2 linked regions of the Homo sapiens genome follow. The protein of the gene in region 1 purifies or fractionates together with the protein of each later gene. This does not show direct contact. Each region holds a gene or a part of one and is shown on either strand. Other genes may lie near its edges.

Region 1 (5,330 bases):
TACTCTGTGACTCAGGCTGGAGTGCAGAGGTACGATGTTGGCTCGCTGCAACCTCCACCTCCAGGGCTCAAGCCACCCTCCTGCTTCAGCCTCCTTAGTAGCTGGTACTACAGGCCCACGCCACCACACCCAGCTAATTTTTTGTAGAAATGGGGTCTTGCCATGTTGCTCAGGCTGGTCTCGAACTCCTGAACTCACGCAATCCACCCACCTCAGCCTCCCAAAGTGTTGGGATTACAGGCATGAGCCACCGTGCCCCACTGCATTATACTCTTAACACTTGACTTTTTCTGATAAAGTTCTTGAGAATTACGAACTGTGTCTCATTTCAACTCCTTCAGTATAGTTACCATAAACATACCACAGGAATAACACTATGATGGAAAAAGTTTAAGAATCAATGCCAACTTACCACAGTCACCAACCCTAAAGCTGTCAGAAAGAGACTTGATGTAATCTTCATTGCCCCAGGAAGCTGCATTTACAAAATGTGCTGGTGAATCCCGAATGGTGAAGCTGAAAGTGTACCTTTCTGATCCAATATCTAAGGGAAAACCAATGCTTTTATTTTTCAAATGAAGAGTTTCAATCGCTTCTCTGCCTTTTGATAAGTGTTACATGAAAAGTTTCATTTCAATTATAAACAAATGATTATTTGTTTAATCAAATAACTATTGATTATGATAATAAAAATACTCAAATACATAGTACAAAATGTTCTTTCAGATGTATATTCTATAACATGCTTCTATGAATTTCAAGCTGAAGTGGTAACAGGTTGCCCCCTTGCTCCCTTCCCTGGTGATCTGTGTATTTGGAGGGAAAAACATGTAAACTTGAGCCATCCAGGTATTACCTTAGGTTCTCCTTTTCTCTCTTACTGTTGTTTCAACCTAAGTCATAATTCAGATCTAAATAGTTATTTCAGTCCCAGCTACTTAGGAGGATGAAGCAGAATGACTGCTTAAGCCCAAAAGTTCAAGGCTTCAGCGAACTGTGATTGCCCCACTGCTCTCCAGCCTGGGCAACAGAGCAAGACCCCGTCCCAAAAATAAAAGTAAAAATAGGCCGGGCGCAATGGCTCACGCCTGTAATCCTAACACTTTGGGAGCCCGAGGCGGGTGGATCACCTGAGGTTAGTTCAAGACCAGTCTGGCCAACATGGTGAAACCCTGTCTCTGCTAAAAATACAAAACTTAGCCAGGCGTGGTGGTGGGCGCCTGTAATCCCAGCTACTCGGGAGGCTGAGGCAGGAGAATCGCTTGAACCCAGGAGGCGGAGGTTGCAGTGAGCCGAGATCCAGCCTGGGTGACAAGAGAAAAACTCTTGTCTCAAAAATAAATAAATAAATAATAATAAAATAAAAATAAAAATTGGCCAGGCACAACAGCTTACCCCTGTGATCCCAGGACTTTGGGAGGTGAGGTAGGAGAATCACTTGAGGCCTGGAGTTCAAAACCAGCCTGGGCAACATAGAAGGACACCATCTCTACAGAAAATTTTAAAATTAGTGGTGGCACTCATCTTTAGTCTCAGCTACTTGGGAGGCTGAGGAGGAAAGGTTGCTTGAGCCCAGTTTAAGTGTGCGGTGAGCTTTGAATGCACCACTGCACTCCAGCCTGGGAAGAATGAGTTCAGGGTGTTCATGAAATGTACACCCAGGCTGGAGTTCAGTGACGCGATCTCTCGGCTCACTGCAACCCCTGCCTCCCAGCAGCTGGGACTCAGCCTCCTGAGCAGCTGGGGCTACAGACGCACACCACCATGCCAGGCTAATTTTTGTTTTTTGTTTTTTTTTTAGTAAAAACGGGTTTCGTTTTTGTTTGTTTTTGAGACGGAGTTTCGCTCTTGTTACCCAGGCTGGAGTGCAATGGCGCGATCTCAGCTCACAGCAACCTCTGCCTCCTGGGTTCAAGCAATTCTCCTGCCTCACCCTCCCAAGTAGCTGGGACTACAGGCGCCTGCCACCATGCCTGGCTAATTTTGTACTTTTAGTAGAGACGGGGTTTCACCATGTTGGCCATGCTGGTCTCGAACTCCTGACCTCGTGATCTGCCTGCCTCAGCCTCCCAAAGTGCTGGCATGAGCCACCGTGCCTGATGAGACAAGGTTTTTTAGTAGAGGTGGGGAAGAACAGAGTGAGACCCTGTCTCAAAAAAAAAAAAAATAAATTTTAAAAATAATTAAAATAAGTTATTTCAAAACAAATTATGTGCTACTTAATGAGGACCACTAGGGGTCAGCAAATACTTTTTTTCCAAAATAGAAATTTCATATTGGTTTTGCTAATTAAAAATTACAACCTGGCTGGGCGCAGTTGCTCCTGCCTATAATCCCGGCACCTTGGGAGGCCAAGGGGGTAAGATTGCTTCAGCCAAGGAGTTCGAGACTGGGCAACAAAGTGAGACCCTCTGTCTCTACAAAAACTCCAAAAATTATTCAGGCATAGTAGCATGGACCTGTCTGGGCTACATGCGAGGCTGAGGCAGGAAGACCACTTGAGCCCAGGGTTGAGGCTGCAGTGAGCTGTATTCACATTGCTGCACTCCAGGCTGAGTGACAGAGCAAGACCCTATCTCAAATTTTTAAAAAAAGTAATATAACTCAACATACATGTAAATTATAGACATATTCTGAACTGTCTATTAGTGTTTACCTCTGGGGAGAGGACTAGGATGGCAAGAGTGAGGAGCTGAAAGGGGAATTTCACTTTTCAAATCTGTGACCTTTGGTACTGCTGGAATTTTTGATACAAATATAATGTTATATGTACAATGTTTTAAGTCAGTAAGCATACTTCTTCCAAAAAAGGAATACCACAGATGTCATCATAAAAAGAAGTCAAACAACACAGAAGTTTTTCTCCTTCCCTCACAGTCTGATAGGTGAAAAACTGTGAATTTCTTTTTCTTTTCTTTTTTTTTTTTTTTTTTGAGACAGAGTTTCACTCTTGCTGCCCAGGCTGGAGTGCAATGGCGTGATCTTGGCTCACTGCAACCTGCGCCTCCCAGGTTCAAGCGATTCTCCTGCCTCAGCCTCCCGAGTAGCTGGGAATACAAGCGCCTGCCACCATGCCTGACTAATTTTGTATTTTTAGTAGAGAGGGGGTTTCTACATGTTGGTTAGGCTGGTCCCAAACTCCTGACCTCAGGTGATCCGCCCACCTCAGCCTCCCAAACTGCTGGGATTACAGGCGTGACCACTGTGCCTGGCAAAAAACCGTGTATTTCATTTTTATAATTTTAGCAAGTATTTTAATAACTACTTTTTTCTAATTCACACATTTTAAGTGATGCCTTCTGAAATTTGGTAAAAGGAGATATAGACTTCCTCAAACTATTTATTTAGTATTTCTGATCTAATTAGTTAAGATGAAATAAAGTGCAGGCACAAATGATATGGGTACCAGATGACAGCTTGGTTATTTACCTTAAAGATAAAAGCATCATGCCTGTAATCTGATCACTCTAGGAGGATGAGGTGGGATGATCACTTGAGCCCAGGAGTTTGAGACCAGCCTGGGCAACAGAGCAAGACTCTGTCTCTACAAATTTTTGTTTTTTTTAAATCAACCAGGGGCTGGGCATGGTGGCTCACACCTGTAATTCCAGCACTTTGGGAGGCCGAGGCAGGGAGATCACTTGAGGTCAGGAGTTCAAGACCAGCCTGGCCAAAATGGTGAAACCCCATCTCTACTAAAAATACAAAAATTAGCTGGGCATGATGGCATGTGCCTGTAATTCCAGCTACTCGGGAGGTTGAAGCAGGAGAATCGATTGAACCCAGGAGGCAGAGGTTGCAGTGAGTCGAGATCGTGCCATTGCACTCCAGCCTGAGTGACAGAGCGAGCCTCCATCTCAAAAAAAAAAAGAGAGAACACATGTACTCAAATATACATATATACACACACGTGTACACACATACACACACATACACATGCACACACATACACACGTGTGTGTATACACATAAACATATATACACATATGTGTGTATGTATACATATATATAGAGAGAGAGAGAGAATGTGGGAGGGAGGGAGAGAGAAAGCCTTGAATCAGGTACTTGACCATCCAATAGAGAGCATGACCATTGCTCTTAAGGAGTTAAACAGGCATAGAAAAATTAATCACTTCAATATACTTTGTTGTAGTCATAAGCCAAAGTTGATGAAAAATGAAACCAAGAGTTAAACAGAACTCAGCTTTTTCTGTCTGGAAAGCCTTTGACATCTGTTTTCCCAATAACTATACCGATAACTTTCTGAAAAACAAAAAGGTCACAGAAGACCAATATTAAACACAGATGTACTTGATAAATTTAATTTCATGGGCTTGTTATACTTTACTGGCTCTAACAAACATTTCTGACTAGGAACCATTTAAATGTATTTATTCCAGGCAAACATCTAAAAGAAGTTCATAAATGTTCAATTCCACAAGGAATAGTATAAAGTAATCCAAAAGTTAACTACTATTACAAATATAATCATTTAATACTTAGCATATTTCTACTTTATTTTCAATCACCAGATGGAGCATAATAACTGCCCTATGCTATCAATCCTTACTGAATTCATCCAAAGCACATGTATAATGCAATTTAATTTGCCACAGTCTTCAAAGCTTTCCTTTATATAGGGTTTTCTAACAATCCACATAAAATCACTTAGCTTCTTAATCCAAACATGCTGGACAGTAATATAAATTAGACTGTAACAAAACTTATATTTTGCTGCTAATAAATCTAAATTCTAAAGTCCTAGATCTTAAAACTTAGAGATATTAACATCTCCTCAAAATGTTTAATGTTCTCTTTAGTGACTACTGAAGAAAAATTTTAAATGTGTTTTAAGAAATAAAAATGGGCCGGGTGTGTTGGCTCACACGTGTAATCCCAGCACTCTGGGAGGCTGAGGCGGGTGGGTCACCTGAGGTCATGAGTTTGAGACCAGTCTGACCAACATGGTGAAACTCCATCTCTACTAAAAATACAAAAAATTAGCCAGGTGTGGTGGTGGGTGCCTGTAATCCCAGCTACTCGCGAGGCTGAGGCAGGAGAATCGCTTGAACCCAGAGGCACAGGTTGCAGTGAGCTTAGATCCCACTATTGCACTTCAGCCTGGGCAACAGAGCAGGACTCCATCGCAAAAAATAAAAATAAAAAAAAAATAATAAAAAATAAAAATGAATACCTTTTCTGAAAGGAAAAAAACTAAACTTATTTTGCTAATTGCAGCAACTGATTTTAACCTTACAATAATCTTGACATTTAAATTACAATCAGGCTTTTAAGACTCCTACATTCTAGCTGAGCTATTAGCTAGCTTT
Region 2 (5,330 bases), on another chromosome or scaffold:
CCTGAGGGTTTTAGCCCTAGTGTCATGAAAGGCCACAGGAGTGTTTTCAATCCTGAAAACGGGTGATGCAATGTGATTCCATTAAAACAAAAGATCCCAGTGACTGTGGGAAAGTGGACCTGCAGGAGTTAATGCAGGGAGACAGCACCAAGGTGGATGTACAGGGGTCCACCATGACCATGGCATCCACTCCTCACAGAGAAGGCATCTGGCCATGGCCTGGCCCTGAGCAAGTATTGAAAAAAATGGGAGCTGTTGTCTTTTGTTCACTAAGCATGTATTAGTCACCTGCTGTATGCCAGGTTGGAGCCACAAAAGTGAAAAGGCAGCCCCTAAATCCCTGTTTTCTTGGAGTGCACACACCACTGGGGCCAACAGTGACTATGAAATGAAATTTCAGGTGAGGAATATGGCCACAAAAAGAACATATTTTGAGGGGGTGCCTTGCTGAAGAGGGAGGTTCCTCCAGAGACTTGGAGGAAGTAAGGACAGACTGTATGGTCACCTGGCAAGGGAAGCATTCCAGACTAAAGGAACAGCAAGTGCAAAGGCCCTGAGGCAGGGAGATCTCCCTTCCTGCCCTGCAGTTTCTGACTTGGCACATTGAGAGCAGCTCCCTGGCAAGTGGAAATCATGTCCCTTCCCAGAGGGCTCCTCCCAGGGTCTCCTCTCCTCAGCCCCTACCTCATCCTCGGTGTAGGCAAGGATGCCAGCCATGGGCCCCTTGGCTGCTGCTTTTACAGCCTCCTTGATGGCTGAGTAGGGGGCAGGCTGGGCGAGGCGGCAGGTCAGGTCCACGACAGACACATCCGGGGTTGGTACCCGGAACGCCATCCCTGTCAGCTTCCTGGAGAATCCCCCATGAGGAACAGGAGTCAGAACTTAGGGACGTTGCCCTCCATTCCCCCTTTCCCTGTGGCTGGGCCAGGCCCCTGCTTTCCTCTTAAGGACTGAGGGCCGGGCCAGTCCAGTCCTCCTGGCGTATGCCCCCACCCTGGTTGCAGCTTCTTGTCCTCATACCCTTTGAGCTCTGGGATGACTTTGGTCACAGCTTTCGCAGCCCCAGTGGAGGCTGGGATGATGTTCTGGTGGGCACCCCGCCCATCTCGCCAGGCCTTCCTTGATGGCCCGTCCACTGTCTTCTGGGTGGCCGTGTAGGAATGGACTGTGGTCTTGGGGAAGAGAAGGACCAAGATGAGGCCTTCATGCTCCTAAGCTCCCATGCCTCTTTTTTCCAGGACTAAGTTGGTGGCCTAGGTGTGGAGGCTGGTGGGGCCACCACCACAGACCACAGGAGGGGATGTGTGCAGGCCAGGGTCCAGCCTTGCCTGAGGGTTGCACAGTGTTTTAAGTGACTTCTGCACTGGTGGGCCTCTCCTCCCGAAACCAGTCTCTCCCTCTTAACTCCATACAGTAAGCAAGGCCCGGGAAGAAGTTGGGTTTCCCTGCCATCCTTCCTGCCCCAGCCCCTCATCCTCAACTCACCATCAACCCTTCCACGATCCCAAATCGCTCGTGGATGACTTTGGCGAGGGGAGCCAAACAGTTGGTGGTGCAGGACGCGTTGCTGAAACAGCCAAGGTGTGCACGGACACTGTGAGGTGAGTCGCAGAGCCACCCCTCCACCCTTACCCCTCTTGGGGTATGCACGCAGACTTGGTTTTATGAAACGTCAGGATGAGGGTGAGAGGGATCTGTGGGGACACTGTCAGACTGAAGGAGGCACTGAGGTGCAGCTGGGGAGGCTCCCCAAGCTTGTCCTCTGGAAGTCATGCGTTTTTAGCAGATAGTTTCGGGAAGGAGAAGCAGAAGCCAAGCGACCAGGAATCCAGTGGGGCTGAGGGTGGGGAGGACGAGTCTACCCTCCCTTCCACACATTGCAGGATGTCACTGCCCACATTACCTCACAATGTTCATGGAGCCAGGGTTATAGTCATTTTCATTGACACCCATGACGAACATTGGTGCATCCGGTGAGGGCGCGGAGATGACCACACGTTGAGCACCTGCAGAGATGTGGTCCTGGGGAGGAAGCGCAGGTGTCAGGGGCTTCTGGCACCATCATCCCCCCAGCTAGCCCTGGGCACCTCTCCCCAGCTTACCGAAGCTGCCTGTATGGAGAGGTACACGCCTGTGGACTCCACCACGTAGGGGCTCCCGACAGCCCTCCAGGGGATCTGTTTGGGCTCTTTGCTGTGGGGAAGTGGCAGGGCTGAGTCAGTCTCCCCTGCTTGAGCCCCACCTTCATAGTCCATGGCTTTCACCATTTGACAGGCTGAGCAGGTACCGGCCCACCTGCAACCACCTGCGTCCCCTACCCCACACACCTACTTGTTCCAGATGGGCTCCACCCCGCTGGCCTAGCTTTTCACCACTGCCCCACTTCAGACCACTTTCCCTTTGCTGATTGCACCACCCCTGTTATGCCTGGGTACAGGTGGTGACCTCCCCAACTCAGCCCTCAACCTCCTCAGAGGCGCCAATGCTGACTGCTGTCAGCCAGCCCAGACCCTTTCTCCATATGCTGCCCGGGACGTGGACTCTGTGACTGTGAGGCCTGCCCGGCTGCTTTCTGCTTCCCAGCTCTGACAACCTCGCCATGAACCCTCCTAGACCCTCAGCTCCTGCAATAGGAAGCTGGCTGCCAAAGGCCAGGAGGGTCCCTGAAAACAGACACTGCATTAAAGAAAAAGCTCCTGGAGGACTCCTGAAGCCTGAGGCAGCCTTGGGGCAGCAGTGGCTCATGGTTTACATTGGAAAGGTAAGGGAGGTTTCTGGTTTCCTGTTTTATAAATTTATGTTTTTACTTGGTATTTTGACAAACATTTGTATTTGAAGCACACTAAACATCTAGTATTGCCGTTTTCTACTTGGCTTTAGCAAACAAGCATTAAGTGAATAAACTGTTCCACTTTCTTCCTTCCCAGGTTTATCATGAGTAACCGGGTGCTTTGCTTCTGTGATTCTTGGCCAGTGTCGGTCTGTTTCCTTTGCCATTGAGCCTGCTCCCCTCAATGGGGGGTTCAATCAATGTTTGTGGGGTTTGTTTGTTTTGAGACAGGGTCTTCCTCTGTCGCCCAGGCTGGAGTGCAGTGGTGCAATCAGAGCTCACTGCAGCCTTGATCTTCCTGGCTCCGGCCATCCTCCTGCCTTGGCCTCCCGAGTAGCTGGGACTACAGGCGCACACCACCATGCCAAGCTAATTTTTAAATTTTTTTGTAGAGATGGGGTCTCACTTTTGTTGCCCAGGGTGCTTTAGAACCCCTGGGCTCAAGTGATCCTTGACCTCCCACAGTGCTGGGATTACAGGTGTGAGCCACCGTGCCTGGCCTCATGGGTTTTCTTTGTTTTGTTTTGTTTTGTTTTTGAGACAGAGTCTCACTCTGTCACTCAGGCTGGAGTGCAGTGGCACGATTTTGGCTCACTGCAACCTCCACCTTCCGGGTTCAAGCGATTCTCCTGCCTCCGCCTCCCGAGTAGTTGGGGTTACAGGCATGCGCTACCACACCTGGCTAGTTTTTTATTGTTGTTGTTTTTTGTATTTTTAGTGGTGACGGGGTTTGCTCTGTTGGCCAGGCTGGTCTCAAACTCCTGACCTCAGGTGATCCCCACTTCAGCCTCCCAAAGTGCTGGGATGACAGGCATGAGCCTCTGCACCTGGCCTCGTGTTTTTTTTTTAGTTAGCCATTTTATACGTGTTTACTGAACACCTGTCCTGTGCCCATATTCTAAGTGCCTTACCTGCATTAAACTCATGTAACCTTCACAACCCGATGAGGAAGTGCTACCGCTGTCATTTTTTGCATTTTTTTACTGCTGTCAGGGCAGAGGGGAGGGGAGTGAGAGGGAGAGCCTGCTGGAGTGCAGGTGGCTGGTCCCACCTCGGGTCTGCACTCCTGTTTCCACTGCCTGAATGAATGAATGAATGGGCTGCCCTGCAAAGCCATCACACATGCATGGTTATCCTCTTCCTGTCTCCTGCTCTGTCAGTCCACTTTCCATCATCTGGCCCAACGAGCTCTTCTCAGATACCCCCCATTTCCTGCCTTCCAAATTAGGGACACTTGCGATTCCTCTGCAACAATTGCTGAGTTGGCCTGAGGCAAAGACTGTGCCCCCAGAAGACCCCAGGCCCTCCCCAAGGCTGTCATGGGCCCCAGCCTCCTGCCCACCAGGCTGTTTTGAGGATTCCATTCATTCATTCAAAGGAAGTTCTGAATGGCTATCAGGGCCTGTACCTGCTAATGCCAGAGCAACAGTGGTGGTACCAGTTGACAGAGCCCTCCGTGCAAGGCCATGGCCTTGTGGGAAGTGCCCGTTTAAGTGTCCACAAACACATGTTCACTCCATTCGTGCTCCCAGCTACCGCTGTGGTGGGTTTGCTCATCATCCCCATCAGATACAGCGGGGAACTGAGGCTCAGGCAAGTTTGGTTCCTTGCCCAAGGTCACCCAGCTAGCTAGCGGAGGTGCAGGGCAGAGTGCAGGCACACAGCCTGGCTTGTGCAGCCCAACAGTGCGGGGATGGAGAGGGGGCTGGAGGGGCGGGGAACTGCATTGCACAAGTGACCAGAGAAGGCAAGACCTGAGTCGGGACCGTGGACGGAGGGGGCAGCTAGGTGGGGAAGAGGGATGACTCCAAGTGGCGGTAATGGTGGTGGCCACGTTGAAGTCTGCGTGATAACTATGGTGCTGGAGTTGTTTCTAGTGTCATGATTTCAAACTTGGGTTAAGCAGCTTTCTTCAATTTTCACTGACTCTCCAGTCTCTGCCCCCTGCCCACAAACTTCCTGCACCCATCCCTGCCCCTTTATCACTCACCCTACCCCCAGTAAGTACAAGGAGAAGGGCTGAGATTAGATCTGTGGGGAGGGGCGCTGGGGAGGCTGCAGACCCTGCCTGGGCCCAGACAGGGTTCACTAGTGTGCCTGTGTGTATTTGCATGTGTGTGGGCCTGTGGGTGTGTATGTGTAAAAGCCCCAGGCAGCCACAGAGCCAGGAGTCGCTAATAGTTTACATTAGAAAGGTGAATGTCAGCCAAAAATAAAATTCTAAACTCCCCCAACTAACTGAATGTAGCCCTTCTCTCGGCCCAGGGCATTCTAAAGTAAAACTGAAACACTGGTTCAGGCCATGATGGGAACGGATGTTCGGATGTTCGCACAAGCCTCATTATACCTTCCTCCCTTTGGAATTCAGGCATAGTTGACCAGCAGTGGTCAATGGGAGCTGAATAGGTGTGGGTTGAAGGGGAATCAAGAGTTGAGTTCTGGACATGTTGATATGCCCACGAGAAAACATGCAAATGTGCGTTAAAGCAAAATGCAGTGG

Evidence for each region. Proteins that work in one complex are often made in the same cells at the same time.
Region 2: the proteins of MEIOB (region 1) and GAPDHS purify together in Homo sapiens (affinity purification with mass spectrometry; 3 studies listed by BioGRID and IntAct, with this or other methods). This does not show direct contact.

Annotation. Positions count from the first base shown.
Region 1 is NC_000016.10:1,861,573-1,866,902, forward strand, and holds part of MEIOB (meiosis-specific with OB domain-containing protein), read right to left. Parts: intron 4,264-5,330; coding exon 4,206-4,263; intron 545-4,205; coding exon 413-544; intron 1-412. UniProt on the Homo sapiens protein: Single-stranded DNA-binding protein required for homologous recombination in meiosis I. Required for double strand breaks (DSBs) repair and crossover formation and promotion of faithful and complete synapsis.
Region 2 is NC_000019.10:35,539,182-35,544,511, reverse strand, and holds part of GAPDHS (glyceraldehyde-3-phosphate dehydrogenase, testis-specific), read right to left. Parts: intron 3,775-5,330; exon of another isoform or gene 2,928-3,774; intron 2,762-2,927; exon of another isoform or gene 2,438-2,761; intron 2,194-2,437; coding exon 2,103-2,193; intron 2,023-2,102; coding exon 1,904-2,022; intron 1,602-1,903; exon of another isoform or gene 1,568-1,601; coding exon 1,486-1,567; exon of another isoform or gene 1,239-1,485; intron 1,173-1,238; coding exon 1,021-1,172; intron 848-1,020; coding exon 685-847; intron 1-684. UniProt on the Homo sapiens protein: May play an important role in regulating the switch between different pathways for energy production during spermiogenesis and in the spermatozoon. Required for sperm motility and male fertility.